7 separate regions of the Homo sapiens genome follow, and regions 2, 3, 4, 5, 6 and 7 are each reported to be linked to region 1. The links are microRNA targets in miRTarBase. Many come from high-throughput screens and were not tested one by one. Region 1 holds a microRNA gene; each other region holds the end of a gene's coding sequence.
The links. Region 1 holds the annotated microRNA hsa-miR-665 (ACCAGGAGGCUGAGGCCCCU, at 1,651-1,670, opposite strand). A microRNA usually pairs through its seed, bases 2 to 8, with sites in the 3' UTR of a target mRNA and lowers its output. Matches are read on the target gene's strand: a 7mer-m8 pairs with bases 2 to 8, a 7mer-A1 pairs with bases 2 to 7 and ends in A, and an 8mer does both.

Region 2: miRTarBase lists ARL14EP as a target of hsa-miR-665. The part of its 3' UTR that is shown has no 7-base or 8-base seed match.
Region 3: miRTarBase lists TTC39C as a target of hsa-miR-665. Seed matches in the 3' UTR shown: 7mer-m8 at 2,203-2,209.
Region 4: the mRNA of WFDC8 is a reported target of hsa-miR-665. The part of its 3' UTR that is shown has no 7-base or 8-base seed match.
Region 5: miRTarBase lists CERS1 as a target of hsa-miR-665. Seed matches in the 3' UTR shown: 7mer-m8 at 1,108-1,114.
Region 6: miRTarBase lists ZNF141 as a target of hsa-miR-665. The part of its 3' UTR that is shown has no 7-base or 8-base seed match.
Region 7: the mRNA of HUS1 is a reported target of hsa-miR-665. Seed matches in the 3' UTR shown: 7mer-m8 at 1,583-1,589.

Annotation. Positions count from the first base shown.
Region 1 is chr14:100,872,666-100,876,744 of GRCh38, reverse strand. It overlaps MIR665 (microRNA 665), which reads right to left and starts at 1,712; the gene lies at 1,641-1,712. MIR337 (microRNA 337) reads right to left here and starts at 2,252; the gene lies at 2,160-2,252. RefSeq lists an enhancer at 2,904-3,073.
Region 2 is chr11:30,336,055-30,340,133 of GRCh38, forward strand. It overlaps ARL14EP (ARF like GTPase 14 effector protein), which reads left to right. Exons shown (of 4, transcript NM_152316.3): 4 at 513-2,169. The coding sequence ends at 741. Among named protein-coding and RNA genes, the nearest start is that of ARL14EP, 15 kb to the left of the region's middle.
Region 3 is chr18:24,132,160-24,136,238 of GRCh38, forward strand. TTC39C (tetratricopeptide repeat domain 39C) reads left to right here. Exons shown (of 14, transcript NM_001135993.2): 14 at 326-3,441. The coding sequence ends at 415. Among named protein-coding and RNA genes, the nearest start is that of CABYR, 4.9 kb to the right of the region's middle.
Region 4 is chr20:45,548,693-45,552,771 of GRCh38, reverse strand. It overlaps WFDC8 (WAP four-disulfide core domain 8), which reads left to right. Exons shown (of 6, transcript NM_130896.3): 6 at 607-1,010. The coding sequence ends at 746. Among named protein-coding and RNA genes, the nearest start is that of EPPIN-WFDC6, 3.3 kb to the right of the region's middle.
Region 5 is chr19:18,867,370-18,871,369 of GRCh38, reverse strand. It overlaps CERS1 (ceramide synthase 1), which reads left to right. Exons shown (of 8, transcript NM_021267.5): 7 at 751-1,387; 8 at 1,980-2,825. The coding sequence ends at 793. It overlaps UPF1 (UPF1 RNA helicase and ATPase), which reads right to left. Exons shown (of 24, transcript NM_002911.4): 24 at 3,140-4,000. It overlaps GDF1 (growth differentiation factor 1), which reads left to right. Exons shown (of 8, transcript NM_001492.6): 7 at 751-1,387; 8 at 1,980-2,825. The coding sequence starts at 1,063. The coding sequence ends at 2,773. Among named protein-coding and RNA genes, the nearest start is that of CERS1, 27 kb to the left of the region's middle.
Region 6 is chr4:373,021-377,099 of GRCh38, reverse strand. It overlaps ZNF141 (zinc finger protein 141), which reads right to left. Exons shown (of 4, transcript NM_003441.4): 4 at 1-4,079. The coding sequence ends at 3,238. Among named protein-coding and RNA genes, the nearest start is that of MIR571, 25 kb to the right of the region's middle.
Region 7 is chr7:47,961,677-47,965,755 of GRCh38, reverse strand. It overlaps HUS1 (HUS1 checkpoint clamp component), which reads left to right. Exons shown (of 8, transcript NM_004507.4): 8 at 318-2,468. The coding sequence ends at 400. Among named protein-coding and RNA genes, the nearest start is that of PKD1L1, 15 kb to the right of the region's middle.

The DNA of each region.
Region 1 (4,079 bases):
GGGGACTCCAGGAAAAGGGTGGGAGGGGGTGAGGGATAAAAGTACAAACTGGGTTCAGTGTGTACTGCTCAGGTGATGGGTGCACGAGAATCTCACAAATCACCACCAAGGAACTTACTCATGTAACCAAACACCACCTGTTCCCCAAAACCTATGGAAATAAAAAATTCAAAAGAAAAATAATACAAACCTTTTTTTCTCCTGGGGAAAGAAAAAGGAAGGTTAATGTTAAATGTCATGCTGGGTTATGACATCATGGCCACCACAAAAAAAGGTGAAAACTCCTCTGAACAGCAGACAGCACAGCCTGGCGCGGACACTGGCACACAGGCCCACGGGACCTGGCGGGCCACAACTAAATGCACCCATCTTCCACCTTCTCTGTCCACCCCCAGGTCACTGATGTCAGGGGATGGAGGGAGCCCTGAGCTCCACTCCTGCTGAGTCTTGTCCATCAACCTCCCTTCCCGACCCAGCCCACCCCCATGAGATGCCCAACGTGCCAGCCTCCAGCCCTGGTGCACACAGGGCCAGTTTCTGGAACACTCAACAGCACACCACCCAGGCAGCTGAGGGCTACTCACCGCTCGGGTCCGGACTCGCTCATCCCTCCTGCAGGCGGCCCCAGGTCCAGTTAGGGCCTTGGACTCAGGCCCCCGTGCCAGGAGCTTGACCAGCTCTTAACAATCTGCCCAGGGCAGAGACGTGAGGTCCCCTCCTGCCCACCTGGTGACCCCGGTTGCTCCCAAAGTGAAAAAGAGAAAGACAACAAATAGAAGCCATCACCCCCACTCCCAAGCTCCACCCACCCGCTCAGAGCCCTGCTGCGGGGACGACAAGACCCTTGTCATGCCCCAAGCCCATGAGCACTGACCTCAGACCCAAACAGTAAGCCTCGTCCAGACCCCTGTCCACCTGTCTGAGATCAACAAAGACAAGCATACCCATCCTGACACCACAGAAGCTGAGGGGTAGACCAGGAAGGGAGCGGGTGCATGGGGGAAGCGGGGGTGAGGAAGGGGAGACGGGAGGTGGGAAGGAAGGGCAGGGGAGAGGGTGCTCCCTCCTGCAGGAAGGGAGGGGGTGCATTGGGGAGGAGGGGTGAGAAAGGGAAGATGGGAGGTGAGTGGGAAGGGCAGAGGTGAGGGTGCTCCCTCCTACAGGAAGAAGGGGTGCATGGGGAAGGAGGGGTGAGGAAGGGGAGATGGGATGTAAGTGGGAAGGGCAGAGGTGAGGATGCTCCCTCCTGCACCCTCTTGTCCTCTCTAATGGCCTCAGCTACTGCAAGGCCTCTCTCCCCACACTGGCTGCCCTGCTGCCCCGATGCTCATGCCTGGGCTGGCTGTCGTGGCTTGTTAATGGGGTTAATGATGCCAATATCACAGGGCTTGGTGCGGGTCACCTCTGCCATGCACAGGACCTGAGTTAGTCAGAGAGGCAGAAGACAGAGGTCCAAGAACCAGGGGCCACGGCCGTGCCCCCTGCTCATGTTGCCATTGGGCACCCTCAGGTACCCAGCCTGAGCAGGGTACGCACAGGGGAAGAAGGGAGCCCAGCTGACAGCTTCTGGGGACCCAGAGTTGGGAATCCTTGGGGAGAGGGGAAATGTCTCCAGAACAGGTTTAAGGAGAGAGTAAGAAGCCGCCTGTGAGGGGCCTCAGCCTCCTGGTCATGAAAGAGTCCTGGGTAGAGGCAGAGACCCCTCGAGGAGACCCTCCTCTTGGGGCACAGAAAGGGCCAGCCCTGGTCCGCCAAAGCCCCACCCCCTCCACCCTGGGCACAAAGGGGCACCATCTCTCCAACGTCTGTCCATCCATCCTGTGGGCCGGGTCCCTTTGGAGGGCTCTGTGTGGGAGCACAGCCCCAGCCCCTCAGTGGGAGAAGCCCCAGGGCTACCCAACTCCCCCTCCGGCCTATCTGCCCTTGGCTGTGGAGTCAGCCCAGGGGGTGTCCCACCAGGGGCATAGTTCCCTGCCAAGGAGGGGCCTCAGAGATGGCCCAGCCCCAGGCCCTCCCCTCCAGGAAGTCAGAGAGCTGCAGAAGAGAGAGAGAAGAGCCCAAGGAGCATGCCGGGAAGAGGCTGGCAGGACAGCAGCGGACTTGAGGACGCGTCCCCGTGCAGCCAAGGGTGCAGAGGAGGGTCCGGGGGCTGCGCGTGGTTGAAGGGGATGAAGAAAGGCATCATATAGGAGCTGGATAACTGTGCATCAACTCCTGTATGAAGCCGTTCCCACCCCCCAACTACTGACTACGGGCCGCAACCCTCCTCCCGGAAGCGCAGTGCAAGCGCTCGGATGGCAGAGGGGACGCCTGCTGCTAGTGGTTAGAGCAGTGACAGCAAGGGACAGCCAGCCTAGGCAGTGCCACCCACTGCTGGGCACCTGCAGCGCTGGGGTACCTGTCCACCCTGCCCAGCCTTGCCCTACCTGCCTCCTATGGCCAGGGCCTGGGCCTCCCTTAGCCCCACAGAGCCCCCAGGTGACTGTGCAGCCAGGCCAAGGGACGGAGGATGGGGAGGTGAAGGGGGAGACAGGCCTGATTCTGGCCCAGGTCTGTGAGTGGACATCGGGGACTCGACCCCACCCACCCACTGCTTTGACTCCCTGGTACTTCTCCAGCCTTGCCTTCTACATCTGTGAAATGGGTTGCAACAGGCACCTCTGGGGACCCAGTGAGGACTCATGAAGTCCAGGGGCACTTCAAGAATTTCCCAGAGACAGAAAGTAGATTTTTGGTTGCTGAGGGCTGGGGGGTGTGCATGGAGGGTGAAGGTGACAGCTGAAGGCTCTGGAGTTCTTTTGGGGGTGATGAAAATGATCTTAAATTGATTATGGTGATAGTTGCAGATATCTGTGAATAACTAAAACACACTTCGCTGTGAGCTTTAATGGGCGGATTGTGTGTATGTGGATTACATCTCAATAAAGTTGTACCCCAAAACACCTTCCTTTGTTCTTTGACATCTTTCTCAACCACCATACTGCCTGCCTCGTCCTACACTCTCCAGCCATCCACACCACCAACACACATGCACAGGGACACGCAGCCAGGCACGTGGTAGGTGGTGCAAAAATATCTGTGAGTAAATGACCTGATAATATAACATTCTCTGAAAGAGCCCATGGAGGGAAACCTTTAGGGAAAGGGGTTAAAGATTAAGAAGTAGGGGTGGCAGGAGGGTATGGAGGTGGGAAAGAGGCTCAGAGTGACACATGAATGGAAAAGGGGCTCAGATTGACAGACACATGGAGGGAGGAGGGGCTCCCTGTAACACATGGGTGGAGGAGGGGGCTGGTGTGACACACGGGTGGGGGAAGAGCTCCATGGGACACATGGGTGGAGGAGGGGGTTGGTGTGACCCATGGGTGGAGGAGGGGGCTGGTGTGACACATGGGTGGGGGGGGTTAGTGTGACACATGGGTGGAGGAGGGGGCTGGTGTGACACACGGGTGGGGGAAGAGCTCCATGTGACGCATGGGTGGAGAGGGGGTTGGTGTGACACATCAGTGGAGAGAGGGTTGGTGTGACACATGGGTGTGGAGAGGGGCTCCATGTCACATAAGTAAGGGAGGGGCTCAGGGCAATGCATGAGTGGGGGGAAGGTCTCTGGGTGATGCATGGGAAGGGGAGGACTTCAAGTGACATGTGAGAGAAGCTCAGGTGACACATTAGTAGGGAAAAGGCTCCTCATGACACATGAGTGAAGGAGAGGTGGAATGTGAGACAGAAAAGGGGCTCAGTGTGACGTGTGTGGGAAGAGAGTCTCTGTGTGACATATGGGGGGAAGGGACTTGGAGTAACACAAGAAAGGCGACTTGGTGTGACACGTGGGTGGGAAGAGTCTCTCTGTGACATATGGGGGCAGGGACTTGGAGTAACACAAGAAAGAGGACTTGATGTGACACGTGGGTGGGGGAAGATCTCACGGGACACAAGGTTGGGAAGAGATGCCCAGTGAGACACAAGGGTGCAGGGAGGGCTCCGCGTGTCAGAAGGAGTCCATGCAATACATCAGTGGAGGAGGAGCTCAGTACGACACGGGGTGGGAGAGCGGCTCAGTGTTATACATGCATGAGGTG
Region 2 (4,079 bases), not on the chromosome of region 1:
AGTTCAGTCAACATTTCTATATATGCCATGTATTCCATCTGTTAAAATTTACCATTGAGTCATTTAAATATTTTTAGGCCAAATTTACTAGAGTCCATTAAAGAACAAGAAACATTAATTGTAGTATAAAAATCTATAGAGGTGGTATACTATAATAAAAATAAAACTGTGTTGATAAAACAGTGAAGAGGTTGGTAGCTAATAAAGTGAACCACTATTAACCTGTCATTCTTTTTTGTTTGTTTAAAGTAAAGGGAAAATTATGCACTTCAAGAAGCGTATTCAGAATTTTTAGATTTGTCTCAACACTCTATAGAGTTAGGTCTCCTCTTCTCACATGGAGTTCATTTACTGCTGACGATAGAATAAGCCTTGAGCCTGATAAATTATAGATGATTTTGGCATGACCTCATCTAAAAATATTTTATCTCCTTTTTTTTTTTTACTGTATTTTCAATTAAATCAAAAATAACATATTTATGAGGTATAATTCATTGTGTTTTATTTTACAGACAAGTGATACCAGCAAAGAGTAAGGTCTATGATAGCCAGGGTCTCCTGATTTTTAGTGGGATGGACCTCTGTGACTGCCTGGATGAAGACTGCTTAGGATGTTTCTATGCTTGTCCTGCCTGTGGTTCTACCAAGTGTGGAGCTGAATGCCGCTGTGACCGCAAGTGGCTGTATGAGCAAATTGAAATTGAAGGAGGAGAAATAATTCATAATAAACATGCTGGATAATCTGCGGTACCAAACTATGGAGCCTTTAAAGGTCTTTATTTCTAAAAATCTGTTACTCTAAGATACATTTTAAGCTTGATTATCATATGACAAAGATTTTAAAACCATCTCAGTGTGCCCTAATTTTTCATCTTGGGTGCTTTAAGATTCACTATTTGATATAAATTCAGATAGGCTATTTTTCAGTAGTCAGCGTTAAGCCTGTCTGGATCAATATAAACAAGTAGGGTGTAGGCAGTCCTCTATTTGCATGTTTCCCATGGGCACAAATTTCAGTGACCTAGATTTAGTTTAAATACCAGTTTCCTTACCAGGAAGGAAAGAAAACTGGTAAGGAAACTGTTGTTGTTAAAATCTAGGTTAAAATTTTAGTTAGCACATTGTAACTGAGTAATTACATGAAGTACAAACCTCTCTGCTAGCTCTTCAGTCTACAAATCGCTATGTAAATAACAGATATGCTTCATGATTGTGACCAGTCATGTTATTTCTTTCAAATTCTTCCAGTGGTTTGTCCCTGTGCATCTGTTAATTCAGTTCACGTACAGCAGAGCATGTAGTTATGCTGTCTCTCTGTCATCTACTTGACATTCTATAGAAGTGAACACTCGAAAGAACTGGTCAACAAAGATGAAAGTGCAGCAAAGCAATGAAAAATGATAACACTGGAAGTGAAATTTTAATCAAACATAAATGAATTTGTAGAAGAAGTCACTGACCATGGGAATGTTGTTCTTGCTGCTGTGTATTCATAGGAGCTTAGTGAAGGCAAACTTACCAACACAAATAAGCAAAGTGGTTGCAATAAAGACAGATACGTCCCAGAGGAAGTGATGGTTAAAAAAAAAAAACTTTACATTAAAAGATATTTAATGTGAATATAGAAATATTTCACAACATTGAAAGCACAAGCAATAAAAGGGTGGAAGCTGACCCAAACTTAGAAGGAGTATGGCAGTTTGCCGTGAACATAAAAGATGCTTACTCAGTATGGTAAGTTACTTGCCAGAAAAAAAGGCAAGCCCTATTCAAACTACTTTGTTTTTACAATGAAATAAAACACTTTAATTCTATTTCTAATGTTTTAAATTACAGTGTACTAAATATTTTTAAACATTTTTGCATTTTTTTCTACATTTATAACTGGTCTTAAGAGTTTTTAATATTTGAGCAGAACCTTAAAGGTCATGGAACAATCATCATTTTCCCTATTGATTATTAAGATTGCAGGACCATTTTTATGGTCCCACAGTACCATGTGAAATGAGGATCGCTTGTAGCTGGGAACAGTGCTTACTTCAGGGAAAACTGATTTTGATAGAACCGACTAGTTGAGTATTAAACTGTTTTGGAAATAATTTATATATCTAAGTGCTGAAATATATTTCTCTTCTCCCCACTTATTCAAATAAAAAAGTTTTAATACTATAAACTTTTCATTGTTAGCGCCACGCAGTCCTTGTCAAGATTGTTCTGGGGGACAAAAACTTGATGTATAAAGCATGAATATACACACAGTACTTAAACAGATACCATATCTGTGGTATTAAAATTTTGGGGGTGGTTGATTAGGATTGTAAAAAGACTCCTTAGGGAGTGAGGATGGAAAAGAGAAACACTGGTTAATACAGAGTATAAATAAATTTTTTGGAAATTGATTGCATCTTGATGTTGGAATTTGCTTGGATGCTATTTGGAGGATGGGGGAATGGTATCGTCTCTTTGCTTTTATTTTATTTTTTTTTGAGACAGTCTTACTCTGTTGCCCAGGCTAGAGTGCAGTGGCTCAATCTCGGCTCGCTGCAATCTCCATCTCCTGGGTTCAAGTGATTCTCCTGCTTCAGCCTCCTGAGTAGCGGGGACTGCAGGCGCGTGCCACCACGCCCAGCTTATTTTTTTGTATTTTTAGTAGAGACGGGGTTTCACCATATTAGCCAGGATGGTCTTGATCTCCTGACCTCATGATCTGCCCTCCTTGGTCTTTGCACTTTTTTAAAGACAGCTGTCATTTTGTCTAAAAGCTTTTTGTCACATGGGACATTGCCACTAATCTGGGTTTTGGGGGGTTTTTTGCATCCTAAATACAGTCCTTCAGTTAAATCAAATGTGCTCTTAGCAATTTGAAAGATTTTGTAGCCATTAAAACTCAATTTATGCAGCCAGTTTGAATTGACCATTAGAGGGTTTGTTTGTTTTTTAATTTTTTTGCTTTTAAAATGACTGGTTTTACTTTGAGGGAATGGCATATTCAGCCTTGGAATTACATATTTTTAATAATTTTAACTGTTCACTCACCTGTTACCAGAAGTACATACAGTTAGCTTGTCAGTTCCTTGATCTGTATGATTTACCTGAACACTGGCAAAAGAATATTTCAGCTTTATTCACTTAAGTCAGATGCTAGATTACTTTCTCTAAAGTAAGGAAATACTTCATTATTGAGGACATAAACACTCCAGTTTTATCTGAACATTAGGATCATTAGATCTTAATTGTTTCTACCATCTTTTAGTTTTTCTAAGTATGACAGTGCTTAGGCTTTTCGTAGGGACAAATTAAAATCAGGTTTTTTACTTAAAATAGGAATATTTTTGATGGAATGAATGACTTTAAAATTGCCATATTGCAGCATTTTTTAGAACAGACCTGTAATTTTTCAAAGACTAATACGTTTTTCAAAGGAAAATATTCTTGAGCAATTTTGCTAATATTTGTTCATCATGCCCATTTAGGGAAGCAAACTTTTAATGAGCATACAAAATGTTTACAGAGAAAGGTGTATCTGATTTACAGTAAGCTGTAATAAAGCTATGTTTTGGAAAAATTAAATAATGAGCCCACTTACTATTTTGTAATATAAAATTACAGAAATATGGAATATAATGAAATCATCTAGAGCCTCTTTATATTGTGCATAAATATTCCAGGTGACTATAAATTATTTTAGAATTAATCTAAAAAGCAAAGTTTTATAAACAATTTCTGTTGTGTGTAGATCCTAGTAGAGAAGTTAGGTCACAAATGTTGGTCTCACACAATGTTGGTCACAAATATTAAGGTAGAAATGCATGTATATATTTGAATAAAATGTCATCTCGTGATCTTTTCCTTTTTTTTAAAATATGGAAATAGCTATTTACCTTGTAACATCATATATAGGATTCTTCTCTTTTTAAAGTATTATGTTTAGTTCTATATAACAGGCTGTTATACAACCTGACAGTCTACTCTAAAACTGCCTCCCTGGCGTGATTTCAAGCAAGTAATTTTTAGCAAGTGAATTTTGAAATATCCATATATATATATACAGTGATTCATTATTAAAAACATAATTTTAG
Region 3 (4,079 bases), not on the chromosome of region 1:
AAGATAACTTTTGATTTTATAACTATGTCCCTGAATTAAGAATTTCTAATAGCAACTTATATTGAGCACAACATAAGACTACTTTTTCAAGAATAACTCGAGGAAAATTGTCCAAAGAGAACCTTATTGACATTCAGTTGACGTTTTTAAAAATGAATACAAAGTTTGAGGTTTGAGTAATATGAAAATCAAGTGGATGGGAAACCTTTACTGGGAGTGTAGAGATTTTACTTTGGGAAATGCAAAATTGAGTGTGCTTTATACCACAGTACCCTGTGCAAGCTTAGCTAACAGAGTGCATAAATATCTTTCTTTGATCTTACAGGAGGATTTCTCTGGCTACGACTTTGAAAACAGATTGCATGTCCGCATCCATGCTGCTCTGGCCTCTCTGAGGGAATTGGTTCCTCAGTGACAGACCCGGAACACCCGCTCCGTCCCTCCCCACCCAGGGTCCGCACTTTAAAATAAAAGCAGAGGACAAAGCTCTTGTGAAGATGGGCTTTTCTTCTGAAAACCACCTGTGCCAGGGACACATTTTCCCAGTTAAGCTGACATATTAAAGATCTCCTCTTTTAAACATGTAGCTGAAAAGTAATAATGATGTTGAGGAGGATGATGATGGTAATAATAACTAACCACCTGGGGAGAGGGTTAAGTGACCTTGCTCAAACGTTTTAGTTTTGTGATTTATTATTTTTAAAATAAAATCAAACGGAACATCCAACCCAAGATCCTGTAGGAACACCTACCTTAAGCACATATCTGAATGGGTAACATGATGAGGTACCTGTAAAATTATTAACAATATCATGACATAGCATTTATATTTGTGTTTTGAAAAAATAAAAGTGCTTTCTAGTGTTTTACTTTATCCTCAAAATACTCCAGTGAATAACATAGCACAGATATTCTTAACCCCACTTTGCAGACAGTGAAACTCAGGCACAAAAAGGCAAATTGACTTATCCCAATTAATTATTCCTGTTATCAGCAGAGCAATGAATAGAAAGCAGATCTCCTGACCACCAACTGACTTTTATTGTAAAAATAATTCATGTTAATAGGCCAGAATTCCATGTTTTACTTATTAAAAGAACAAAATCTTCAGCTGAAGTTATGTCACCAGAAATAGTCATCTCCAGATTGTCTACAGAATGTTTCAAAGCGATGGACACTCTTTTTCCTTTGAAAGCCAACCAAGTAAGAGCAAATATTAATAGAAGATAATTTTACAACTAAAAGTGTGACTCTTTTGCTAATCTATTAGCCTAGTCTATAGATTAGACAAACAGTATCTACATTTTAGGAGTTTACCTTTCTTTGTGAAAATTGTCAAATTACCAACTTTTGGAAATCTTTTGACACATTACTTGAAAAGGTTATTCGTGAATGAACATAGATTTTGGCCTCAAAATATTTGCTGGTGGAACATTTGCTGGGCTACACAGTGCCAGGATTTAATCATTTTCCCCTTAGCTCAGGTTATTTAGATATTATACAAGGAATTCAAAGTTATTTTTTTATTCTTCATTGCTAATTTTTGTCATTTAATTTACCTCCATGCCCGGTACTGCAAACCTGTGGTTTTGAAGAATCTAAATACCTCAGTCACTTTTAAGAATCTCTGCCATAATTTGGCTCAATGTTTAAGGTTAGATTTTTAAAGAAATTTTTATTGAGCTAAAGGATATCATTTTAGGGTATCGTTTATTTACAAATTCTTTTGGCTGAAACATGATCTCATATTAATATTTTAATATTTCTTTTCAAAATAAAACAGAAAAGCAAGTAGAATGTTGGCAAATTTTATCTGATTTGACCTTGTTTTGAGGGAATAGTCATAATTTCTTTGAAAGAAGTTATTTCTCACTGATTTTGGCTAAACAGTATTCATATTTCTTCATCTCTGTTACTGACCACTTTTCAGTAGACTGTTTCCAAAATGTGTATTCACATTGACTTTCTCCCTGATGTGAATTCCGTGTGGGTTTTAGATAATAGTAAGAGAGAAGAGATTGCTCTCCTATATTCAGTGAATGAGAAGGGAACTTTTTTCTGAAGAGCAAAATTGGTGCCCAAAAATATTGGACATCTGTTTTTTGTTTTTTTTTTTTTTTTTTTTTTTTTTTGAGACGGAGTCTCGCTCTGTCACCCAGGCTGGAGTGCAGTGGCGTGATCTTGGCTCACTGCAACCTCTGCCTCCTGGGTTCACACCATTCTCCTGCCTCAGCCTCCCAAGTAGCTGGGACTACAGGCACCCGCAACCACACCCGGCTAATTTTTTTTGTATTTTTAGTAGAGATGGGGTTTCACCATGTTAGCCAGGATTGTCTCCATCTCCTGACCTCGTGATCCACCCGCCTTGGCCTCCCAAAGAGCTGGGATTACTGGTGTGAGCCACCGTGCCCGGCCTGGACATCTGGTTTTAACTAGATGGAAGGGAAGAACATTATGAATCTTTAAAATACGGCTGTTGCCATTTTTCTCTCTTCTTAACATGCAGCATAGGTGACAAGCTTTTCTGTCATCATCATGGAGCATTCTGAATCATGACATTTTTGTTTGAGAGTTCATTCTTGAATTTTCAGTTCAAAATATTGTTTGAACTATTATTCCACATTCAAAGATTATATAAGGTCCTGTGCTTTTGAATCTTTTTCAAAACATTTATTTCTGCCTGCTTAAAAAAAATACTTTTATTTCCCCACAGAGAGTTCAGGACTTCAGATTAGTTTGTGTTCAGCTCACTTAACTGGATAGACAATTTTGCGTTTTGCAACACCATCCTGTAGGTTTTCTTTACTAGTCAAAGTGTAGGTCTTTTTAAAATTTTTAATCTTTATTTTTATTTTTATTTTGAAACAGAGTCTCACTCTGTTGCCCAGGCTGGAGTGCAGTGGTGTGATCTGTGCTCACTGCAACCTCTGTCACCCGGGTTTAAGCGATTCTTCTGCCTGAGCCTCCCAAGTAGCTGGGATTACAAGTTCCTGCCACCGTGCCTGGCTAATTTTTGCAGTTTTAGTAGAGGCAGGGTTCCACCACCTTGGCCAGGCTGGTCTTGAACTCCTGACCTCATGATCCACCCACCTTGTCCTCTCAAAATGCTTACAGGCATGAACCACTGTGACCGGCCAGGTCTTTTTTTTTTTAAAGAGTCTATCCTAGGCTTGGTACAGATGGCGCCTGTGGTAAATCTGTGTTAACATGGTGGTAGACCATGGAGAATGGGTAGATGGAGCTTCTAGACTCCAAAACAACAAAACCACAGTGTGAGTACACTGTCCCATTAGGTTGACTGAAGTCTGAGTACATTTTCTGGCCTGCGTGCCGTGACTTATCCAACCTGTGAACTGATTGTGATCTGCTTGGTAACTTGGTTTGGTGTAAACTGCTCTTAACCCTTTGCTGATGAAGAAAATAATCATATAAGTGGAACTATTTGCATCTATGTGTGCTTCTTTTTTTATGTTGTCATCACTCATTCCTTCCCCTGTCCTATTTTGGAGGCTCTCAATGGATCTTCTAACTTATAAATGTCAAATATATTTTTGTATTAGATTGTGCCTATGATGAGAGAAATCTTTAATGTATATTTTATGTATGCTGAACACATTTTTATAATTTGACACACTTGGAGGCATGGTCTAGTAATAATAATGTAATATGTACCTTGCTGGTTAATATAACTAAGATTTTGCCTTTATTGGGTTAGGTATCTTTTTTTTATTTTAGCACCTGATAGCTGTCTTCTACTGAGTAAAGAATTATAACTTTTAGATGTCACAGAAAATTAGAGTATTTATTGTCACATATTGTGTAAGTCAATTATTTACTGAATTTGCACTTTTCTGTCTCTGCCAACTAAAGTTAAAGGACAAGTCATATCTGATTTTTAAAATGAGCACATGCACAGGCATGCACACACACACACACACACACGCAGACACACACCTTTGCTGTGTAAACTTTTCCAGTGGATTTCTTCCTTAAGCAAATCATGGTGGCAAGTATTCAAATACGGTTTTCACTATGAAGATACACATTCACAAAATCATGATGTACTGTTTTGGTTTCTG
Region 4 (4,079 bases), not on the chromosome of region 1:
ATGCACATCATATTCATATCCTGTAAGATGGGCTGGGGAAAACATTAGTAGCAAATGATGTTGGATAGAAGCCAACTTTCCTGCCTCCTCTAAGGCAGGTGTTTACTTCCCCATGTAGTCCCAGGGATTGTCCAGGTGTGGCTTTAAGGTTCTAAGGTTCAGTATAGTGTGGTGGCAGGAGTCCAAGGCTTTTCAACCTACTTCAACTTTTCTACTGGCTTTCTATGTGGCATTGGGCAACTCATTTCCCTCTAAATACGCCTCAATGCCTACAATTTGTAAAACAAGAAGGTTCTGTGTGCTAATACTCCTGCCACCTGTGGTACTCTGGGGTTATATAACCCAGATCCATTAATTCTGTAGGAGCAGACAGGAATCCTATCAGATGGTACAAGTCAGAGATGGTAAGACTTTTCTTGATGCTCCTCAAGTTATTAGTCGTAGAAAGTTGATACTCTGCCTCCTCCAGTCTATTGTTACTGTAGGGGGAAAGGTAAGAAGCTTAATCAGAATAAAACCTTGTTTGAGATTCCCAAGATTCCTCAAATTTGTCTCAAATTATGACCAAGTATTTCAAGGTCAAGTGTTTTCTTTTACCCCATAAAGTCAAAAAAGGTTTCTGCCCACGCAAGCCCTTGCTATGTACCAAGATTGATAAACCCAAGTGCCTGCAGGATGAGGAGTGCCCATTGGTGGAAAAGTGCTGCTCACATTGTGGACTGAAATGTATGGACCCCAGACGTTGAATAGTAAGTAGAAAATATTATCATCAAAATCATTAATTATGAGTAGCATGATAAAGAGCTGTCAGTTTTGTCTTGTATCCAACTTGCCAAATTATCTTAAGTATCACAATATTGAATGATGTTACTTTGATTTTATATATAATCCCATCATCTGAAAGTGATGATATATTTGGCTTTTTTTCAACTTCATGACTTTATTTTCTTGTCTTCTTGTATTGTGTAGAACCTCCAAAATAATAATGAAAATAAAGGCAATGGCATCCATCCTTGTCTAGTTCCTTATTTTAAAGTCAATGGCTCCTGCACTATAAAAAGATATTTGTTGTTGAATTTGGAATACATAAGTTTTATTGCACTTAAATTATTTTCTTTTTCCTTTTCTTTCTTTCTTTCTTTTTTTTTTTTTTTGTGAGACGGAGTTTTGCTCTTATTGCCCAGGCGCAATCTCGGCTCACTGCAACCTCTGCTTCCCGGGTTCAAGTGATTCTCCTGCCTCAGCCTCCCAAGTAGCTGGGATTACAGGTGCCCACCATCATGCCCAGCTAATTTTTTGTATTTTTAGTAGAGATGGGGTTTTACCATGTTGGCCAAGCTGGTCACAAACTCCTGACCTCAGGTGATCCACCCACCTCAGCCTCCGAAAGTGCTGGGATCACAGGTGGGAGCCACTGTGCCTGGCCAGTTATTTCCTTTTTAAGCCTATTTCCTATCCATTTATAGCTACTACTGAAAATGACTACTGAATTTTATCAAATACCTTTTAAGCATACAGTCACATAATGATTTTTCTCTTCTAATTTGTTGGCATAATAAATTACTAAATTTTCTTGAGCCATCCTTGCATTCTTAATAAACTTAATTGCAGACTGCTGTATCAATATATTATTGGTTCTTTTTAGCTAATAGTATAGTTTGAATTTTCACATCTATAGTCAAAAGAAAAATAGGTCTTTTTAAATTTGTTTTTTCTATTTGGGTCATATTACTTTCAAAAAATGAGTATGGGAACTAATTGGGAAACCTAGCTACTTTTTCTATGCTCTGAAATATTTTACATAATATAGCAATTCAGCATTTTTTGAAGGCTACCAAAATTCAGCTCCAAAAGCATCTAGATCAGGTTCTTTCTAGTGGTATATTTTAGTAATTTTTAAATATTTCATCTTATAGTCTGCAGGTTTTCTACCTCCTCTTCTGCAAATTTTGGTCTTTTGTATTTTGGTAAAATTGATCCATTTTTCCTATATTTTCACATGTATTACTTTAGAGTAGCATAAATTGTTCTCTATATAATTCTTTTATATCTTTAACTTTGGTTAATGCTTTCATTTGTACATTCATGTTTCCACCCACCTATTTACTAACTATTCAATCCCTTTACTCACCTATCCATTCACTCAACACATATGCAAATACCCAATCCCCACTCACCTATCCCTCCTTTCCTTCCACTGACACACTTTTCAACTTAGCTATTTGCCTACTCCATATGTCTATCCACTTACTTTTCTTACTCATCTTTCTTCTACAGACCCACTTGCCCATCTAGCCTTTAATTCATCTTCCTATTATTGACCTCTCTCTTCCCCCTTTCTCTGCACACACACACATGCACACACTCTTTCATACCCATCAAAATACATATTCATCATTTCTATACCTAACTCCCTCCATCCCCCTACCAATGCACTCTTCCACCTTTCATTCAAACAGCCTCCATCAATAGGCCCACATATCCCATCACTACCCTATCCATCTTTATATTCAATCCAATCCACTTATTCACCCAATCATCCACCCATCCATAATCCATGCATTCATGTACCCAAACATCCATGCTTTCCTCACTAATCCCTCTCCCTGCTCAACCATCTTCCCACTTATCACACTCTACCAGCCACCCATCCATCCACATAGCTACCTACCTATTCACACACCTACCAATCCCCCCCACCTACCTTGCTCTTCCAGCAAGATGTACTGAGTGTTTATTTGGGGCCTATTCATGTTTTAAGCACTGCGTTCTAGACACAGACCTGTTTAATGGAGTTCAGAGCTTACTTGGGGGAGCAAACATGTAACTTAGTAATAGAGTTAGAGGCAGAGGGAACAACATAGGAAGCCAGTGACAGAGAATCAGTCCATGTGACAGATCTTGGGCTAATGAAAAAGCAGGAGGTGCCAGGTAGAGGCTGATCTTGTTGGTTCTCGTTGGAGTCCCCTGTTCTAAGCACAGGATTGTTCCTGGGAGAGAATTGGCCTGGAGGCAGAGGTAGGGCACCATGCCCTCAATGAGAAAGGATGAAGAAAGGAGAGGCAAAACCCCAGGTGGGTCCTTACCCAGCCTTCTCCAAGAAATTATTGGAGAGAAGGGGCCAAAACCATGATTTATCCCAAGTCCCAAAGACATAAATTTTATTTCACCTGCTTGGAAAGTGAGATGCTTGGATGGGCCTGAAAATTAGGCAAGACAGAATGGAATGAAGCAACCAGAAAGATAGTTAATTTATTTTCAATAAAATTTACGAAAAAATGCAGCCTTAATTGGGGACCCTGGGTACCATTTAGAAATTTACTGACTTTGGTGAGCCAAGTTTGCGCCACTGCACTCCAGCCTGGGTGACAGAGTGAGACTCCGTTTCAAAAAAAAAAAAAGAAATTTACTGACTTTCACTTTGTGGGTGTTCAGCCTCTGTCTCCACTAAAGACATTACTTCATTCCTTTAGACTCACCCTTCCTCTCTACCTTCAACTCTACAAGAAAATATTATATCCACACCAACATCAAAACATGCCCTGGTGTCCTCTGGCAAGAACTTGTGTGCTCAGCTCCCTCTTAATCTTATTTCTGACACTCACTTGCTGGGTGACATTTAGTCAGCATCCTCACTTCTCTGGGCCTTATGATTCCCATCTATAAATTGAGAAATAGGGCTTGATGGTCCCTCAGAGCCCTTCCACTTAGATATTCCAGTTTTCACTCTCTCCTGGGCTGAGTTTGTGAGAATATGGGAAATGAAATGAGTGAAACAGCACTGCTTACGACGTCTTACTCATTCATTAGAAATTCTAGCCAGGCACGGTGGCTCATGCCTGTAATCCCAACACTTTGGGAGGCTTAGGTGGGCAAATTGCTTGAGGCCAGGAGGTGGAGACCAGCCTGGCCAAGGGCGATACGTCATCTCTACTAAATATACAAAAATTAGCTGTGCATGGTGGTGCATGCCTGTAATCCCAGCTACTTGGGAGGTCGAGGCACGAATTGCTTGAACCGGGAAGGTGGAGATTGCAGTGAGCCGAGATTGTGCCACTGCACTCCAGCCTGGATGACAG
Region 5 (4,000 bases), not on the chromosome of region 1:
GGTGCCACCACACTACTCAGGAGGCTGAGGCAGGAGAATCGCTTGAACTCAGGAGGCAGAGGTTCCAGTGAGCTGAGATTGTGCCACCACACTCCAGACTAGGCAACAGAGCAAGATTCTGTCTCAAAAAAAAAAAAAAAAAAAAATTGCTGGGAGTGGTGGCGTGCCCCTGTAATCCCAGCTACTCTGGAGGCTGAGGTGGGAGGATCCATTGAGCCTTGGAGGTTGTGCCACAGCTCTAGCCTGGACCACAGAGTAAGACCAAAAAAAAAAAAGGAAAATAAAAGAACATGGAAGGGAAGTAGGTGGAGACAGCAGATGCCAGCCAGGGCCACTGGAGTCAAGGACTAGCCTTCGTGGGGTGGGTGGCAGAGGAGAGGAGGATGTGCAGGGTCCCACTGTGGAGGCGGTGGAGTTGTCAGGCCCAGGCCGGTACGTGGGTTTTGCCCTCCAGCGGCCTGGAGAGGCAGGGAGGAGGGGAAGAGGAAGGTTTAATTGGAGAGGGGGAAGCAAGGAGGAAGTGCCAGGGTGCCAGGGGGGACATACGTGCCTACGGGGCAGGTTGAAGGAGGGGCAGGGTGAAGGCAAGGAGGGGCAGGGTGAAGGCGAGGAGGAAGCCACAAGGCGAGGCCCGGGCCTGGCCGGGTAAAAGGAGCCAGGGGGTGTGAAACGGCCAGAGAAGAAGCGGGAAAGAGGGCCAGGCGGCCGCGTGGGGCTCCCAGGCTAACCTGCGCCGGTTCTGACCCCCAGGAAGCCACTGAGGAACGGCCTGGTGAAGGACAAGCGCTTCTGAACCCCTCGGCCCCGCCCCCGTGGACCCGGCCCCACCCCGAATACCCCGGCCACGCTCCCCGTCCTTGGCCGCCCCTCCACCCCCTCCAACTCTGCTCCTCTAGGGCCGCCGCCACCTCCCCTGGGACCCCGCCCCCTCATCCTGCCTCCAGTTCCCGGCCACGCCCCCCAGGACCCCTGCCCCTCCGGGGACACCGGCCCCGCCCTCAGCCCACTGGTCCCGGGCCGCCGCGGACCCTGCGCACTCTCTGGTCATCGCCTGGGAGGAAGATGCCACCGCCGCAGCAAGGTCCCTGCGGCCACCACCTCCTCCTCCTCCTGGCCCTGCTGCTGCCCTCGCTGCCCCTGACCCGCGCCCCCGTGCCCCCAGGCCCAGCCGCCGCCCTGCTCCAGGCTCTAGGACTGCGCGATGAGCCCCAGGGTGCCCCCAGGCTCCGGCCGGTTCCCCCGGTCATGTGGCGCCTGTTTCGACGCCGGGACCCCCAGGAGACCAGGTCTGGCTCGCGGCGGACGTCCCCAGGGGTCACCCTGCAACCGTGCCACGTGGAGGAGCTGGGGGTCGCCGGAAACATCGTGCGCCACATCCCGGACCGCGGTGAGTGGGGCTTTCGCTGGGGACACTGGTCCTGGAGGCCAGACCTCGCAGGGCGAGCCTCGAGAGTGGCCCGGGGATGCCCGAGCAGCTCCGAGGGTCCCCACCCGCCCTGTCCAGGCTACTAGCAACTTCGGCCACCGCACCTCACCCTTTCCTCGTCATCTGCTGCACGCCGGGGACACATGTCAGGGGGTTCCCAAGACCAGTCCTTCTGCTTGATGCTGAAGCCCTGTCCCCACCCCATGCCCACCCCCACCTCTTGACACTAATGCCTTCCTGCAGATGCCATCCCCACACCCTAGCATGGCTTCCCCAGGGGCCCAGGTTCTGGCTCATGTCTCCCACTTCGGCCACCCCTCCTCCTATGCCCCCCGCCGAGGGCAGCCCACCCCCCCCGCCGCACCCCGCAGGGCGCCTTCCTTGGAACTCATGCCCTGCCCCCACTCCATCAGCCCACCCCGCCGCTTCACACCCTTCCCACAGACGGTGCGCCCCGAGCCCCAGCGTTCACCTTCCTCCCTGTCCCTAACCGAGACCCCATGGGCAGGCCGGGGACGCAGCGCGAGCCGAGTTCCTGTTCCTACCTCCCCAGGTGCGCCCACCCGGGCCTCGGAGCCTGCCTCGGCCGCGGGGCATTGCCCTGAGTGGACAGTCGTCTTCGACCTGTCGGCTGTGGAACCCGCTGAGCGCCCGAGCCGGGCCCGCCTGGAGCTGCGTTTCGCGGCGGCGGCGGCGGCAGCCCCGGAGGGCGGCTGGGAGCTGAGCGTGGCGCAAGCGGGCCAGGGCGCGGGCGCGGACCCCGGGCCGGTGCTGCTCCGCCAGTTGGTGCCCGCCCTGGGGCCGCCAGTGCGCGCGGAGCTGCTGGGCGCCGCTTGGGCTCGCAACGCCTCATGGCCGCGCAGCCTCCGCCTGGCGCTGGCGCTACGCCCCCGGGCCCCTGCCGCCTGCGCGCGCCTGGCCGAGGCCTCGCTGCTGCTGGTGACCCTCGACCCGCGCCTGTGCCACCCCCTGGCCCGGCCGCGGCGCGACGCCGAACCCGTGTTGGGCGGCGGCCCCGGGGGCGCTTGTCGCGCGCGGCGGCTGTACGTGAGCTTCCGCGAGGTGGGCTGGCACCGCTGGGTCATCGCGCCGCGCGGCTTCCTGGCCAACTACTGCCAGGGTCAGTGCGCGCTGCCCGTCGCGCTGTCGGGGTCCGGGGGGCCGCCGGCGCTCAACCACGCTGTGCTGCGCGCGCTCATGCACGCGGCCGCCCCGGGAGCCGCCGACCTGCCCTGCTGCGTGCCCGCGCGCCTGTCGCCCATCTCCGTGCTCTTCTTTGACAACAGCGACAACGTGGTGCTGCGGCAGTATGAGGACATGGTGGTGGACGAGTGCGGCTGCCGCTAACCCGGGGCGGGCAGGGACGCGGGCCCAACAATAAATGCCGCGTGGTCTGCTCCGCTGGTCTCCTTGGACTCCTTGCCTGGGTGGTGGGGAGGGCGCCCCTCAGTCTTGGTGATCGGATAGGCCTTTCCACCTCCAGGCCACCTGCCAGAGGCCTAACGCGCCACTCCGGGGAGCCGCCCGGACAGGCCCAGGTGCTGCCTACGGGAAGGGCCCAGGGGCAGGGGTCGCCCTTCAGTCCTGCAAGGCAGACCTGTCCCTTCTGGGCTTTGCCTGTCTCCCTCTGGCCTCCTTCACACCCCAACCCGTCACTCAGCCAAGGCAAAACCCCAGCACCCTCCACCCCCTGCAGTTTATCCAACCTTGGTGTGAAGTCAAAACTGTTTATTAATATTTGGTGACAAAAGAACTTAAATTGACCGAAAATCAAAAGTTACATTGCCTTGGTACAGTGCGCCTGGGTTTGTCAAGGCTGCTGCTACAAAGCTGGAGAACACAGCACAGGGCGAAGCAGAGGCAAAGCGGCCCAGCCCAACAGCCGGGATGGGGCAGGGAGCGTCCCTCAGGCCGCCGCGGGGTCACCGCGGAAACCTACCCGGTGCATGCCTCTACGCGGCCTACCGGAAGAAGGGGAAACCGAAAGCCCTAGAGCAATGGGAATAAATAAGAGTCCCTGCCAGAAGGAAGGTGGCCTGTGCGTCCCCGTCTGTCCCATGTAGAAGCCGGAATCTGGAGGTGTTCGGATCAGGGCCAGTGACAGCCCCAGGCCCGGGGCAGGGGAAGCTGGAGGCCTGGCCGCCAGGCAGAATGACACCCCAAGCCAGGCGTTCGAGGGGCTGGGGCAGCTCTCCTAAAATGACCCTCTGCCAATGACACCACACCCTCAGTCCCTTCACACAGAACGCGGTAATTTCTGTAACTTGTTTCCTTACCCCCCAGAAGCAGCAATCACCCCATCAGCAAAGTTGCCGGCAGGCAGAGCTCCCAATTTGGGCTTTCGGTGTGCAGCGCTCCGTGTCTAACCAGCACAGGGACTGTCGGTACCTCCTGGGGACGGGGACAGGGACAGGCCCTCTTGTCCTTCCACCAAATCTTCCAAAGGCCCCCGGGAAAAAGCCGTCAATCCGGGAACAGCCACCTTCTCGCCTCCTGGCCACAGGGCCAGTCCTGGCCAAGGCCCCTCGCAATGGGGCCAAAAGCACCTTCCTCACCGGTGCGGGGCCCTGCGCC
Region 6 (4,079 bases), not on the chromosome of region 1:
AACAACAAAATGAAATGTTCTAACTAAAATAACTTAATACATATATTATGAAATTACATCTAAAAATTTTACATTCACTACATTTTATAAAAATCATTCTTATAATTTCTGACCAGCTCACATAATAAACACTTCATGAAGTGAAAACAAAAAAGAGAATCAAAGAAATTATAGCTCTAGCATGAGCACCAGACAAATAAAAACAAGGAGTTTGTATGGGGAGATTCTCAACGACAATCCATTAGATTCTAGAGTCATTAAATAAAAAGAAGAAAATATAGAATGTTTCAGGCTTCTAGATTTCCAGTAAATTATCCATGGTATTAACATAATCTTCTTTGTTCTAATATTGCTATTTTCTTTGGAAAATAGGTACAAACTCACATAAACACAATTGCTTGCTCTATAATTTTCTTACACCTAAGGTTTATCTTTACAGCAACACATTTACATACTTAACTTCATGTAAATGGAACTAAAGTTTGTATAAGTTTGCAGGAAAAGATGCCACATGTTCAAAGAGAAATGTAAAACATTTTTTAGAAGTATTCAGGATGCATAAATGTATGAATTATAATTATACTGATATAATACTACAATCATAATTGTACATTTAGAAATAATTAAAGTGTATAATTGGATTGTGTGTAATACAAAGGATGAATGCTTGAGGTGATGAATAACTCATTTACTCTGGTATATTACATGTTGTATGCCTGTATAAGAAAATAACCCATATATGCCATAGATAAATATGCATACTATGTACCCACAAAAATTTCGGAAAATAACAAGAGTGAAAATACAACATATGGGAATGATATTCTTCAATGTATTTGCTATTTAAAGCCACTGGAAAAAGAGAATACTAAAAATGTCATTCAACTATGTTACCATTGTTACCATCTTTTACCTACACCATTGAGTAAGGTGGGATAGGTTTAAGTTGGTGGCATAATGACACTTCATTCAAGCAACAATTATTTCAACACGTTAAAAATTTTGTTTAGTTAAAAAATTATGTTCCCACATAATCTTAAAATAATTTTAAAATTTACTGTATCTTATTACATAAATGTATAATTGGTAAAACAATTTACTACTAAAACAGATTTTCTCTCACTATAATGCAGAAGAATATTACTCTGAACACCTACCTCATGCATCACTCAATATTGTCAACTACAAAAAAGCCTCTCTGCTAGATTTTCATCATGGATCTTTCATTTCTGTCCTCACTCTTTCTTGTAAAAATTCACAAATAATGCCCACCTAATGAAAAAGAATCTCTCTTATCTCTGATGCAGCAACAATTCATCACATGCTTTCACATAAACAGGAATGTTGAAACAGTATGAAATAATTTGAGTTGAATTAACTATTATATGCTTTTCAAAAAATCTATACTTTTTTCAAGTGAAAAAATATACTTTAAATGTAGTATCTCTTCAAAAATCTTCTTTTCAACTTATATACAAAGAAATTCTCTAATAGGTTCAACTTTGGATTTTTTTAATACTTAATACTCTGATTTACTGCAGTGTCTAAAGTGTTAGTTCCTTAGTTCTTTCTACTGTAAATCCTCTGATGTTTACATACTCTTCTTTTTAGACTAAATATTTCTTCACATTTACTGCATCTACAAAATATTTTCTAGTGTAAACTGTTTAAGCTGCAGTTTTTGAACAAATGTTTTTCCACATTTATTACATTTGTAGGATTTCTCTCCAATATAAATTTTCTGATGTTGAAGAAAGTCTCCTTCAGTGTTTTCCCCTATTATAAAATGTGTACAACAAAATCCATGAGAGAAGTACAGGTACTACAACCCTCTTTATATTTGTATTGTTTGTCTTAAGAATACTCTTCTTCACTTTAAAGGCCTATATTTTCTGAAGTCTTTCAACAGAAATTACATTTATAATGTTTTTATTAAGTATGAACATTGCTAGTTAGTAAAATGTGAGGAGATATGACTTTTCTATATTTTTTATATTTCTATAACTTTTCTCGAATATAAAGGATATCATGTGCAAAAAGATGAGCATTGGTAAAAATCCTGCCACATTTTTTGCATTTCCAGGGGATTTCTTCAGTAGGAATTATATATATACAGTAAGATGTGACAAGCATTTGAAGGCTTTGCCACATTTTTCATATTTTTGTGGCTTCTCACCAATATCATTTCTCTTATATTTAGAATAGATTGAGTGTGGTTGCAAGCTTTGTCACACTTTCCACGTTTGCAGTTTCTCTTCAGTGTGAATTATCTTATGATTAGAAAAGACTGAGGAAGATTTAAAGACTGCCACATTCTTCACATTTGTAAGACTTTCCTCCAGTATGAGTTCTCATTATGTTTAAGAAGCCTGGAGTATGGCTTAAAGGTTTTGTCACATCTTTTACATTTCTATGGTTTTATATCTAGGATGAATTCTTATATTCATCTTTCATATCTTCTCAATGTAAGTTTGTGGAATGAATCTTCTACTCTCAAATATGAATTTTCATAAAGGTTTGTGGATGGTCTGAAGGCTCTGCCACGTTTTTCACATTTGTAGCATTTTTTTCCCCAGAATGAATTATCTTGTGCACAGTAAGGGTTGAGAACCTATTGAAGGCTTTGCCACATTCTTTACATGTGTAGGGTTTCTCTCTGGTATAAATTCTCTTATGTTTAACAAAGTTTGAGGATGTGGTAAAGACTGTGCCACATTCTTCGCATGTGAAGCATTTTGCTCCAGCATGAATTCACTTACGTTCATTAAGGGTTGAGGACCATTTAAAGGCTTTGCCACACGGTTCACATGTGAAGTTTCTCTCCAGCATGAATTATATTTATTAAGCATTGAGGACCAATTAAATGCTTTGCCACATTCTGCCACATGTGTAGGGCTTCCCTCCAGCATGATTTTTCTTATGTTTATTCACCGGTGAGGGCTGTTTAAAGGTTTTGTTACACTCTTTACATTTGCAGGGTTTATCTCCAGTAATAATTTTCTTCTGCTCATTCAGGTTTGTGGACCATTCACAGGCTTTGCCATATTCTTCACATTTGTACAGTTTCTCTCCGGTATGAATTCTCTTATGTTTATCAAGGTTTGAGAATGAGGTAAAGAACTTTGCCACGTTCTTCACATTTCCAGGGTTTCTCTACAGTATAAATTTTCTCATGTTCATTAAGGTTTGTGGATCATCCAAAGGTTTGCCACATTCTTTACATTTGTAGGATTTCTCTCAAGTATGAATTTTCTTATGTTTATTCAGGTGTGAGAACCGTTTAAAGGCTTTGTCACAATCTTTACATTTGTAGGGTTTATCTACAGTATGAATTTTCTTATGTTGACTCAGGAGCGAAAATTGTTTAAAGGCTTTGTCACATTCTTTACATTTGTAGGGTTTATCTGCACTATGAATTTTCTTATGTTGACTCCGATCTGTGGACCGTCTAAAGGCTTTGCCACATTCTTCACATTTGTAGGGTTTCTCTCCAGTATGAATTTTTTTATGTTCATTCAGGACCCTGGACCGTCCAAAGGCTTTGCCACATTCATCACATTTGTAGGGCCGCTCTCCAGTATGAACTTTCTTATGTTCATTCAGTTTTGAGGACTGTCTAAAAGCTTTGCCACATTCTTCACATGTGTAGGGTTTCTCTCCAGTATGAATTCTCTTATGTTTAGTAAGGGTTGTGGACCTATTAAAGGCTTTGCCACATTCTTCACATTTGTAGGGTTTCTCTCCAGTATGAATTCGCTTATGTTTGGCAAAGTTTGAGGATGAGGTAAAGATTTTCCTACATTCTTCACATGTGATGGGTTTCTCTCCAGCATGAATTCTCTTATGTTTAGTAAGGGTTGTGAACCTATTAAAGGCTTTGCCACATTCTTCACATTTATAGGGTTTTTCTCCAGTATGAATTATTTTATGCTTAGCAAAGTGTGAGGATGTGGTAAAGATGCTGCCACATTCTTCACAAGTAAAAGGTTTCTCTCCAGTATGAATTCTCTTATGTTCATTAAATATTAAAGACCATTTAAAGGCTTTGCCACATTCTTCACAAGTGTAGGGTTTCTCTC
Region 7 (4,079 bases), not on the chromosome of region 1:
AGGAGCTGCTCTTCGCTGCAGAAGGATGCTCATGTGGGTGAATGTGGTTTGCCAGGAAGCCAGCCTGCTGGGTGTTTTGCCAAGGGCTTGGGCCGCTTCACTTTTCCTCTCCTCGCACAGGGAGCCGCCAGTGCTGGGGCCGTGATGTAGCCTCAGCTGTGGCAGTGAGAGTGAGAGACTGTGGTCTCTGCAGCTGCCTCAGGGAAGACAGATGCCTAAAACAGGAGGTGCAGGCTGGGAAGGCTGTTCTGAAAAAGTAGAGATCAAAATGTGTGTGCTGCACTAGGTCTCTAAAATCATGGCTTTTCTCTTCCCAGATATTGTGAATAACAAGATGGTGCATTTTGATCTGCTTCATGAAGACGTGTCCCTTCAGTATTTCATCCCTGCGCTGTCCTAGCACCCTGTCGCTGGAGTTGGCATGCAGAGACTTTGTCAGGATGGGAGAGGCCGCAGGTGTTGTGTTCTGATCACTGGTCTGTGCCCTCACAGCACCGCACATCGACACACTGTACTTATTTGTCCCTCTCTAACATTTTAACTAAAAGTTGATTCAACAACACACAGTTGGATAAACATATCACTTCATGTTGCTCATGTCTGTTTTGCTTTGTTTTTAAGACACTGAAAAGAAAAGCTAGAATTTATTTATTCAGACTTTAAAGAACAATTTCTCATTGATGTTGTGAAAATCGTCATGTATTTAGACTTGGTGTAGTAGCCAGAATTCGTAAAGCTGTTGCCTGGGAGCTTGGTACTTTCCCTCCAGGCAGAGGCTCTAGCTCAGCACGGCCTGTAGCGCACAGTCAGTCTTGCATTTCAGTGTGTTCACCCCGCTGCTCCTGCCCCTTGGAGCCCAGTGACAGAAAGAACAGCCTCTGTCACCCCGCCGCCACTGCCTTGGTTACTCAGAGCACTGTGGGGTGTCACAGCTGCAGCATTTGGAGTCTCTCTCTTGCTGAGGACTCAAGCCCACCTGAGTCCACTCCCCTCTTGATGCCTAGAGAGCTGGCCCAGCCAACACAGCTCTTAGCTGGGAGCTCCTTCTGCCATTCCAACTAGTTTCTTCCTGGGGCCAGTTTTGGGTTTAGGTTGTAATTCCTTATATTTCTTTCTTCCACAGTGTATCGGATCTGTCGTTCTGGAAAGAAGACCCTTCTATTTAGAGTAGAAACAAACGAAACTTCTAAGGTATCATCTGTGTTAAGTGATGAGACCATATTTCTTTGATGTTTCTGAACATCAAAGCTGATTCAGTACTGGTAGATGTGCTCATTCTCCCTGAAACATACCCATCATATTTCCTATTATAATTACATCTCATTGTCCTGTGGAGGTGGACATGATAAACATTATCTTTTGTTTTCTTGTTTTGTTTTGTTTGAGACGGTCTCATTCTGTCACCCAGACTGGAGTGCAGTGCCACAATCATGGCTCACCGCATTGACCTCCTTGGCTCAAGGCATCCTCCCACCTCAGCTTCCTGACTAGCTGGGACTACTGGTGTGCACCACCACACCCAGCTAATTTTCAATTTTTCATAGAGACAGGGTCTCACTGTGTTGTCCAGGCTGGTCTTGAACTCCTGGGCTCAAGCCACCCGCCCACCTGGGCCTCCCAAAGTGCTGGGATTACAGGCATCAGCCATCACACCCATCCATAAACATTATATTAATGTCACATTACAAAACTGAGACCTAAGTTGCTTAGGATAAAATGAAATTGGAAGACTAGCTAACATGAAAATTTATATTTTGGCTTTTTCATGTTTTTTGATAAAACCAGTGTATTTGAATGATTCTTTTGATGTTTAGTAATGGTTTTTTGTTTGTTTTTTGGTTTTTTTTTTTGAGACGGAGTCTCACTCTGTCGCCAGTCTGGAGTGCTAGTGGCGCGATCTTGGCTTACTGCAGCCTCCACTTCCCAAGTTCAAGCGATTCTCCTGCCTCAGCCTCCCGAGTAGCTGGGACTACAGGCGCATGCCACCACGCCCGGCTAATTTTTGTATTTTTAGTAGAGACGGAGTTTCACTGTGTTGGCCAGGATGGTCTCGATCTCGACCTCGTGATCACCCACCTTGGCCTCTCAAAGTGCTGGGATTACAGGCGTGAGCCACCACGCCTGGCCTATGTTTAATAATGTTGAAATAGGATGGAATATTTTGTTAAATTAACATTTTAAAATTAGAAGACACCGTTTTAATTTTTAAACCCTTCCTCCTCTCATTGTAACGAAATTAATTCCAGCTGCAGTGAGAAAACTTAAAAATCATGATACAAAATGAAACAATATCTGAAAGTAGTTTTATAAAACTGAAATTGCTGTTAAAGAGAATGTGTTAGTGACTTAACCATTTGCTCTATGTGATGTTTATTATCAAATACATATAATTTTGAAGATTTTAATGAATGGCTTAAGATTTTATCTTTGTGTAGAATGTGGCTAAAGAAACCTTAGTTGAGATTCAAGAAGTTGGTGTCTGTTTCTGATTCTTATCACAACTTGCTACTTAGTGTCTACCAAGTCCTCCACCTCTTTGCTCCTCAAAGAGCTGTGAAAAATGATGGCAGGAGCCGGTACAACACCACAGACTTAGAGAAGGGCACAGTGCTGCTTTATTGAATGATCTACCAAGGTAAAATTTTGCCGGGTCAAGAAATAGCAATTTAATCCATTTAAAGGAATGAATATAATTTGAAACATTAACTTATTTCAAGACTAACATCTCAAAGTGTTGAGACCTTTTTTAAAAGAGCTTTCTGGATTTTGAGCATACTTTCACTGGCTGTGATTTATAAGAATTTGTGGTTTGTGGAGTACTGTCCTAAATGCCAGGGTAAAATAAGGCAGTCCCATGCCTTACCTGCCCTGGGCTCAGGGCCTCACATCCTTTTGGTACGCACATCTTTTCTCTTCTCCCTTGTTCTGCTCTCCCGCAGCATATACCTCCTAGCCCCAGGCAATTACTTGTCTAATATCTATCTCTATATATTTGCCTATTCTGGCTTTTAGCTTTTTTTTTTTTTTTCCTGAGGGAGACAGGGTCTGGCTTTGTCCCCCATGCTGGAGTGCAGTGGTACAGTCATGGCTCACTGCAGTCTCAAACTCCTGGGCTTAAGCAGTCCTCCTGCCTCACCCTCCCAAGTAGCTGGAACTACAGGTGTGTGCCACTGCGCCCAGCTAATTTTTATATTGTTTTGTAGATATGAGGTTTTGTACGTTGCCCAGGACTCCTGGGCTTAAGCAGTCTGCCCGCCTCAGCCTCCCAAAGTGCTTGGATCACAGCTGTGAGCCACCACACCCAGCAATTCTTTTTATCCAAGAATTTTATCACCTGAGTTTTGAGGTCATTCTGTGCCATATCAGAGACACTTAAGAATTTCCCATTCCAGTTGCTCCTGGCTAGCATCCAAGTGGCCCTGCCATCCTCCTCCAGCCCTTCCTTGGCCCAGCAGGGAACTGCTTGGCCATCAGGTCTGTAGGCTGAGTTTATAGTGAGGTACTGTGCCTGGTGTGAAGGAGCCCACTCTTGGGGACCTAGAATGTGGCCTCAACAGTAGTCCTGGGGTTGGGATTCTGGTTCAGCCACTAGGCAAAGGTATTTAATGACATTCATGTTCTTAGTGTATGTTGCCAATTTAGCAAAGCATCCATCGTTTTGAAGAAATAACAATTCAGAACTTTTTAAAACAGCTGTATTGAGATATAATTCACATATCACACAATTCAACCATTTAAAATAGACTGTCTAGTGGTTTTTAGTATGTTCTCAGAGTTGTACAACCATCACCACTATCAATTTTAGAACATTTTCATCACCCAGTAAAGAAACTTCTTAACCATAAGTAATCATTTTTCATTTTTCTCTTCTCCCTTATTCTGCTCTCCCCCACCATATACCTCCTGGCCCCAGGCAATTACTTGTCTAATATCTGTCTCTATATATTTGCCTATTCTGGTTTTTAGCTCTTTTTTTTTTCTTGGGGGAGACAGGGTCTGGCTCTGTGCCCCAGGCTGGAGTGTAGTAGTACAATTATGGCTCACTGCAGTCTCAAACTCCTGGGCTCAACCAATCCTCC